3 separate regions of the Homo sapiens genome follow, and regions 1 and 3 are each linked to region 2. The links come from fine-mapping of genetic effects on gene expression. A gene starts in region 2. Each other region holds a variant in brackets. All regions are shown on one strand. Distances are from middle to middle. Region 1 holds the start of LOC101927890 (a long non-coding RNA gene). Region 2 holds the start of NUP42 (nucleoporin 42). Region 3 has its middle 24 kb from the start of NUP42.

Region 1 (2,761 bases), 32 kb before region 2:
GTTGCAGTGAGCCGAGATCGCGCCATTGCACTCCAGCCTGGGCAACAAGAGTGAAACTCCATCTCAAAAAAAAAAAAAAAAAAAAAGAAAAAAAGAAAAAATGCTGGCTGTTGTATCATGTTCTGTATTTATTTTATAAATAGTACTTGTTCGTTCAGTTTACCAACCGCCAGTAAAATAAAGTTTTATTCATAAAATAACAGTAAATGTTGTGGCCTGAGGGAAACTGTACTCCAAAGTGGGCTGGAAGGAATCCCTGTGGCGTTAAGAATGCTGATGGAGAAGGGTGGGGAACCTGACAGAAGAAGCTGGAGAGAATATTTTCAGGCTGTGTTTTCACACCATGCTGGGCACACAGGGAGAAGGGGGAAGAGAACCTCTATGTAAGGTTTGGAAAATGGGGTTGGTGGTGTTTTGTCATGGCACAACTCAAGATAGAAAGGCAAAAGAGAAAAAAATTAGAAAAATAATTTTTCTGCAAGATCAATAAAAAGCTTATTTATCAGCAACAAAACAAGGATAGGAGGTATAGCCAGGCTTTACCTGGAGACCTGGGTGGTGTTAGAGCTGAGCTCTAGGGCTAGCCCAGAGAAGTTTGTAAAATGATGCTAATTAGTTAATTGGGCACGAGAAGCAGAAAGGACACATGACAGATTTCTGAGAGATACTGCATTTAGTCAGCTAGAAGCTCTAATTCATGGCTTCAGGGTGAAGATTTGGTGAGATAAGGGCATTGTGGGAAGGCAGGACCATTCAGCACAAAGCTAGGAGCCAAGGGGAGAGCTGAAGAAGCCAGGCAGGTATCTGGGGCCTCACCCCCGCGGCGATGGAGGTGGGGGCTGAGGCGGCAGCTTTCTCTGGCTTGAATCATAGCAGCCTACAGAAAATGGCAAAAGAAGGGAAATTGGAAATTTCAAGGGTTTGCCAGTTCTTTGTGAACTGTTATGGTGGAAGCAGGGGCTACAGGGTAGAGCTAAGAGAGTGCTGCGCCTGCCCCAGGAACAGGAGAGGCCCCCTGCCCCCACCAGGAATGTCAGGGGACCATCAGGTGATGGTCAAGCGGTTGTTAAGCTGTCTCTCTAAAATAATAATTGGTCGCAGTGCCAGGGAAAGG[T/C]TGTCTCCCAATAAATAGAAACATCTGAAATTGGTGATTAGCAACTTACGAATAAGATATCAGGAGTTGGGTGAGTGGACTCAAGCATGCCCACTAAGAGGCAAAATGGCGTAGTTTAACTGGTTTAGCTTCCTCTGGTAGCACTGCGCTGGTAAGGGAAGAACGCCTCAAGTGAGCATGCGTACAACCTCAGTAAACATACTGCGCATGCTTCCCCCCGCCCAGGTGCTGGCCGACCACCACGCATGCGGACAGCCCAACCTAAGGGAAGGATCAGGGGAGAAGAGATGCAACCCCCAGAAGCATACCAACATATAAAACCCCAAGTCAAAGGTCAAACAGCACACTTGACTCTCTCAAGTTGTCCGCTTGGCCCTCTTCCAAGTGTACTTCACTTTCTTTCATTCCCGCCATAAAACTTTTTAATAAACTTTCACTACTGTTGTAAAACTTGCCTTGGTCTCTCACTCTACCTTATGCCCCCTTGGTCGAATTCTTTCTTCTGAGGAGGCAAGAACTGAGGTTGTTGCAGACCTGTATGGATTCACTGCTGGTAACAACTTGACAATTAAAAAATAAATTTAGGGGCAGGGCATGGTGGCTCACACCGGTAATCCCTCACGCCGGTAATGTCAGCACTTTAGGAGGCCAAGGCAGGCAGATCACTTGAGGTCAGGAGTTCAGGACCAGCCTGGCCAACATGGCAAAACTCGGTCTCTACTAAGAGTACAAAAATTAGCCGGGCGTGGTGGCATACACCTATAGTCCCAGCTACTCGGGAGGTTGAGGCAGGAGAATGGCTTGAACCTGGGAGAAGGAGGTTGCAGTGAGCTGAGATTGTGCCACTGTACTCCAGCCTGGGTGACAGAGACTGTATTTCAAAAAACTAATAAATAAATAAATATAGGCCTGGTGTGGTGGCTCATGCCTGTAATCTCAGCACTTTGGGAGGATGAAATGGGAGGAATGCTTGATGCTAGGAGTTCAAGACCAGCTTGGGCAACAAAACAAGATCCTATCTCTAAAAACAAAATTTTAAACATTTAGAGGACGCTTCAAAGAGCCCCTTTGTCCACAGTTGAACTACATTTGGTGAACTGAAGACAGGGAAGAAAGAGTCTAGACATTACGGCCTCCATGGTCCCCTCCCCCTCCTCTTCCTCATAGTGATCACACGAACCTAACAATGTGACATGTTCGTGGTGTGATGGAAAGTTCTTTAAAGCACAATTCAGCAGTCATGTGCTTGAGGGTGGCAAATAAAGAACTTGTATGTGTGTATGTGTGTGCAAGAAAGAAAGTTCATCCTGACATTAATTGTGTTAGTAAATTGCTAGAAAAACCCAAGTGTCCATCATTAAGGGAGAAGTTAAATTCATTATAAGACAGTTAGGCACTGGGATACTATTCAGCTGTTAAAACGAGCAAGGTAGATCTCTGTATCACGGTTGGATCAGGATATCAGAAGAGCCTCTGTGTATTCCATTTAGGAGACTTTTACTGTAGGGAGTTATTGGAAAGGCTGAAAGAGTGGAGGTCAGGGAAGCTGCTGCTGGTGACCTCAGCCTGAAGGACCAATGTGAGAGGTTCACACAGGTTATAGAAGTGAACTGGGGCCTGCTCCTCCAGTGCAGTAAAACCAGATAC
Region 2 (2,761 bases):
GGCGGGCACCCGTAATCCCAGCTACTCGGGAGACTGAGGCATAAGAATCGCTTGAGCCTGGGAGGCGGAGGTCGCAGTGAGCCGCCTGACTGAGAGAGCAAGACTCCGTCTCAAAATAAAATAAAAAAATAAAGGTCAGATGAATAGCCCTAAAGGAGGGGAAGGAAGGGAGACAGCACCGAATTATTAACCCGATCTTTAAAAATCTTGTGTTGTTCTAAGGTTTCATGTCTAATCTCTCCTTTCCTTGAAGATAAAAAGCTTTGACAATGATCTAGGCCCAGGGACTAGATCAACGTGGCCCCCGCATCTCCTTTCCTCACCTCCCGGATAGCCCTTAACTGGGCGTCCCACATTCCCAATTTCACCCCAAATTTATGAGCAGGTGCATTTTTGCGGTATGGCTCTATAGGTTTTATTAGATTTTCTTTTTTTCTTTTCTTTCTTTCTTTTTTTTTTTTTGATAGTCTCGCTCTGTCGCCCAGGCTGGAGTGCAGTGGCACGATCTCGGCCCACTGCAACCTCCACCTCCCGGGTTCAAGCGATTCTCCTGTCTCAGCCTCATGAGTAGCTGGGATTACAGGCGCGCGCCACCACGCCCGGCTATTTTTTTTTTTTTTTTTTTTTTTGGTATTTTTAGTAAAGACGGTGTTTCACTATGTTGGTCAGGCTGGTCTCAAACTCCTGACCTCGTGATCCGCCCGCCTCGGCCTCCCAAAGTGCTGGGATTACAGGCGTGAGCCACCGCCCGGCCGGTTTTATTAGATTTTTTCAAAGAAGTCCACGACTTCTCCAAAATGAAGTCCTGATTCTGACCCAAGCTGCTAGCCTCACCCTCGAAAAAACAACTTAGTAAAAATTATATTCAATTCCGGCATTTACCTACAAGGTAGTTTCGATAGGTACTTCCGATTTAAAAACTCAGTTTCGCACAAGCATCCAGGCCCAAACCCAGGTCCTCAGAAGCTCAATAAAAACGGACCACATGAATAATATGTAGATAAAACCCTCGGTTTAAAAACGTTGTGCAGGGCCCAGTAGGGCCGGCAAGGCCGCGACGCGGGCACGTTGGGGTCACCAGCAGCGGGAAACACGCGGGACGCCCGGTCCCCGCCGGCGGACCCTTCCCGGCTCGGTTACCGCGGAGGATTCAGAGGAGAGTCACCTGAAGGCTGCTGCTGCGGTTGCTGCCGTCCTCCTCCTGCACCCCTAGCACCGGGATGTTCGTTCCAGCACCGATCTCCAAAGCGGCACCGGCCTTGAAGGAAGAATTGACAAATGGCCATTGCGACGGCGTCGCTGACGGAGGGCGTCTTCAGTCTGCACCGTTCGATGCCTGTTACTGGGCAGAGAGCCCTAAGGCAACCTCGGCGCCCGGCCGGGCTACTGTGACGTCATCTTCTCGCGCCTGGGAAGGCCTTTTTCCGCCTCTCACCCGGCAGTGCCATGAGACGCATGGACTTGAGCCAATAGGACTTGAGAAGAGCGGACCGCTCTGACGCTTTGAGTGTGTCCTGGGAAGGAGGGATGCTTGAACGGTTACGTGAAGACCGGAGGCGCGTTTGACCCCGGTGCAGGGCCTCGGACTACAGGAAGGCTGGAGGTCCAAAATGAGAGGAAAGCGGAGCAAGCAAACGCAGAACTTCAGCAAGGCCCTCAGAGGAGAATTAGCTATGATTTGAGAGACTGAGTCGTTCTTGCTGAGACGGTAAAACTTAGCTTGGGCTGAGAAAGTAACAAACTGCCTAGCCTTTCATCTGGATGGATAACAGAGTCAAATAAAGCCAGACGACGTTAAGAGGAAACAATGTTTCTTTTAGGACATGCTGCAACGGAAAAGTATTACCACTTAAGTACATTCTTACTACACACTGAGAAACCTTGTTATTTCTTCTTTTTTTTTTTTTTTTTTGAGACGGAGTCTCGCTCTGTCGCCCAGGCTGGAGTACAGTGGCAGAGCTTGGAGGCAAGCTCTGCCTCCAAGGTTCATGCCGTTCTCGTGCCTCAGCCTCCCGAGTAGCTGGGACTACAGGTGCCCGCCACCACGCCCGGCTAATTTTTTTGTATTTTTAGTAGACACGGTTTCACCGTGTTAGCCAGGATGGTCTCTATTTTCTGACCTCGTGATCCGCCCGCGTCCGCCTCCCAAAGTGCTGCGATTACAGGTGTGAGCCACCGCGTCTGGCCGAAACCTTGTTCTTTCAAGTCCACATAAACGTTGCTATTTGAAATTATATCAGAACGAGTGAAAAGTCCCATCCTTGCCTGGAGGATCTAAGTCTCTTTGACGCAGAGAAGCAGCCTCAATTTCTATCCAGGTGTAGAGCTTCAGATAAACGGTTCTGAAAACATTCTGTATTTTCTTAACTTTGCAGTTTCCAAGGAAACATGCCCTACATTCAATTCTCGTCCAGACCTGATGTTAATGCCTTTACACACAGCTATGCTTTGAGATTTCATTTAAATTTCACCTAAACTTCACTCTCCCCGCCAAAACATACAATAACTACCTTTTATTTTGTACGGTGAGACACACCACAGCTCCTCTGGTGTGCAGTCTTCTTGATTGCAATAAGTCAATAGATCTGACTTTGTTGGATTACAGGTTTGTGCTGGTGGTTTTAGGATTATTGAGCTGGGAGTGAGCCATCATTCTTGCTCATGTAATTTGTTTGGATTTTGAAGACAGCAGAATCTACAGGACGGGAACTACTTGTCCAAACTAGTTTTTTATTTTCTTTAATCAATGCAATTCATTTAT
Region 3 (2,761 bases), 24 kb before region 2:
ATTGTAACAAAAAGATATTTACAAAAGGTTATTTTTTTCTACATATATCAGGCACTTCAGAATATCTAAAAAGAATAGACATTTCAAAAAAGCTTAGCATTGTCAACCATATACACAGTAGTGAGGAATGAAATGCACACAAAACAATGGAGAGAATATGAAAATGTCTTCTAAATATGACCAGTCTGGCACAGAAGCTTCTTCTCTTCCTTCTCAGGTCTTCCAGCTCCATGTCCTCTAAACCACTTAACAAACGTGGACGTCTCGCTTCCAGAGGCCGTGTTAACAACTCCATTTCCAAAAGTCGTCTCCAGAAGACATTTATTTTCTATGATTTCTTTTAAGCAAATGAGAATTTACAAGATGTGTGATTTTCTAACTTTATCATACATCAGCAACCTCTTTCCATCTAGCTCATAGAAGGGCTAGATGTGGCAAATGTTTTCTATTAAAAGGTTTGGGTAGTGTTGAGAGCAGCTGTTTCATATTAAATACACAGGCCTTCCATAAACGGCCAGTAAATCTTCCCAAAGGGTGGTGGGCATTTCCAAGAGGCCAGACGTGGCTTGTCATTCCACCATTTCTCTCTTCCGACAGCAAGCTCTGGTAGAACGAGACCAACCGCCCGAAGGCCGCTAACTGTTCCACCCGTCATCGTTCGGGACTTCGCTCACCTCCCAAGCCCGTTAAGGCCTTTGTCCGTTGTCCTGAGGACTCGGCAGGTCTCGTCCAGTGGGAACAGAGCGGTCACCCGGGCCCGGACTCGCGCGGCTCCGTGGCCTAAAGAGGCGGCCGAGCTTGCCTGCGTCGCGAGACCGCCTTCCCGGGCCCTGCACACCCTAACGGTCTCCGCCGCGCGGTGTTGGGGCGGCCGCCATGCTTCCCGGCCCGCCTCTCCCGCCGCCACCCGGAGACACTGCGTCTCGGCGGCTCGGCGGGGTTTCGTCGAGGCCGGGCAGGATCCGGCGGCGGGGTCTGGGCAGGGAGAGCCGCCGCCAACAGTCACCGAGGTGGGGTGGGGAAGAGAGGTTCGCCGCGGCTTCGAGGCCTGCGCCCGGCCAGTGGGCAGCCACAGCGGGGCCCCCCGTGTCTGCAGGGCAGAGGGCGCAGCCAGTCCGGGGCCCCCTAGCTCATCTCCCCATCTCACCCGCCGGCCTGGAGGGCCGTGGGGGAGCGCGCCGCGCTCTGCGTCTCTTCGAGCTCTTTCTGCCGGGCCGGAATGCAGGAGTCACAAATTGATTCAAATAGGTTTACAAATTTAAAAAAGAAGCTTGACAACCACTTAACCTGTTAAAGGATACTACAGGAGTGGCAGAGAATTCCTCAATTCTTCTGCTTCTGTGCTGCCAGGGCTAAAAGCTGCTTGCATTGTAAATAACCAGGAAAAAGGAACAGATTTCCAGGTGGTTGATGATGTGTGGTTGAGAAAAGAGCCTCAAGGTAACTACTTAATATGTTGATTCTAGATTATTTTCCTCGTCCAGTGTAATTAGAGAAACAAACACACAACTAGTGAATCAAA[G/C]ATTTTTATTTTGTTCCACAAATGTGTACCTTTTATATTTCGTTAGTCTGATAGCAAAAATTACATTTTCCACCTCTACAGTCAGTTCTCTAGTTTTACTCCTGTGCTTCAGTGTTTGAATGACAAGCCTCATCAGCATGACATATTTAATCCAACAGGCTTGGACACCATTTGGCAAACCAGTGGATTCACAGTGATCACTGCAGAAATCTGAAAGTGACTTGATAATACACAATTTAGGGTGGGGAAAAAGGCATTTTCCCCCTAAATCAAATATTTAAAAGTTTGCAGACTTATTTCAAGCATGTGGGAAAGTATAGAAAACAACAGCGTATTACTATGTACTACTCATCACCCAGTGTCAATTAAAAAAAAATTTTTTTTTGAGACAGCGACTCACTCTGTCATGCAGGCTGGAGTGCAGTGGTGTGATCATGGCTCACTGCAGCCTTGACCTCCTGGGCCAAAATGATCCTCCTGCCTCAGCCTCCCAAGTAGCTGGGACTACAGGTTTGTGCCATCATGCCCAGCTCTGTCAAATTTTATGCTTCTCATATTAAGCTTTTTTTTTTTTTTAAGTCACATATAAAGCTCCCTGTCTGTGCCTTTCAGATCCCATTTCTTTTTTTCTTTCCCTAGGTAAACACTGTTCTGAATTTGGTGCTTGTATTAGTCCATTCTCACACTGCTAATAAAGACTGGGTGATTTATAAAGAAAAGAGGTTTAATTGACTCACAGTTTTGCATGGCTGGGGAGGCCTCAGAAAACTTAACAATCATGGCAGAAGGAGACGCAAACACATCCTTCTTCACATGGCGGCAGCAGAGAGAATAAGAGCCCAGGAAAGGGGGAAGCCCCTAAACCATCAGATCTCATGAGAACTCACTATCGTGGGAACAGAATGAGGGAAACCAGCTCCATGATTCAATTGTCTCCACGTGGTCCTGCCCTTGACACATGGGGATTATTACAATTCAAGATGAGATTTTGGGTGGGGACACAGCCAACTCATATCAGTGCTTATTATCCACATGCTATTATTCCTGTGTTTATGAATCCATACATAATACTACAGTATTGTTTTGCTCTTTTGTACTTTAAATGGTATATCATACATACTATTCTGTACCTTCCCCCTTTTTGGTGGTTGTTTATACAAGTAACTTGAGTCATTATACAGTTATATTCCATTATGCCAAAGTTTATCCATTATCCCGTGGATGGACTTCTGGTGCTTT

Evidence for each region. PIP is the estimated chance that this variant, and not a neighbour inherited with it, causes the effect.
Region 1: its variant is the best candidate, but not a certain one, in a credible set for the expression of NUP42 in whole blood (TOPMed, PIP 0.83).
Region 3: its variant is the best candidate, but not a certain one, in a credible set for the expression of NUP42 in whole blood (INTERVAL, PIP 0.63).

Annotation. Positions count from the first base shown.
Region 1 is chr7:23,212,573-23,215,333 of GRCh38, reverse strand. LOC101927890 (a long non-coding RNA gene) reads right to left here and starts at 1,259. Exons shown (of 2, transcript XR_242147.3): 1 at 1,164-1,259. The variant T/C (reference allele first, on the strand shown) is at 1,115.
Region 2 is chr7:23,180,611-23,183,371 of GRCh38, reverse strand. It overlaps NUP42 (nucleoporin 42), which reads right to left and starts at 1,324. Exons shown (of 7, transcript NM_007342.3): 1 at 1,166-1,324. The coding sequence starts at 1,286. RefSeq lists enhancers at 960-1,029, 1,130-1,729.
Region 3 is chr7:23,204,394-23,207,154 of GRCh38, reverse strand. No RefSeq gene overlaps it. Among named protein-coding and RNA genes, the nearest start is that of NUP42, 24 kb to the right of the region's middle. RefSeq lists an enhancer at 662-721 and a silencer at 912-1,191. The variant G/C (reference allele first, on the strand shown) is at 1,523.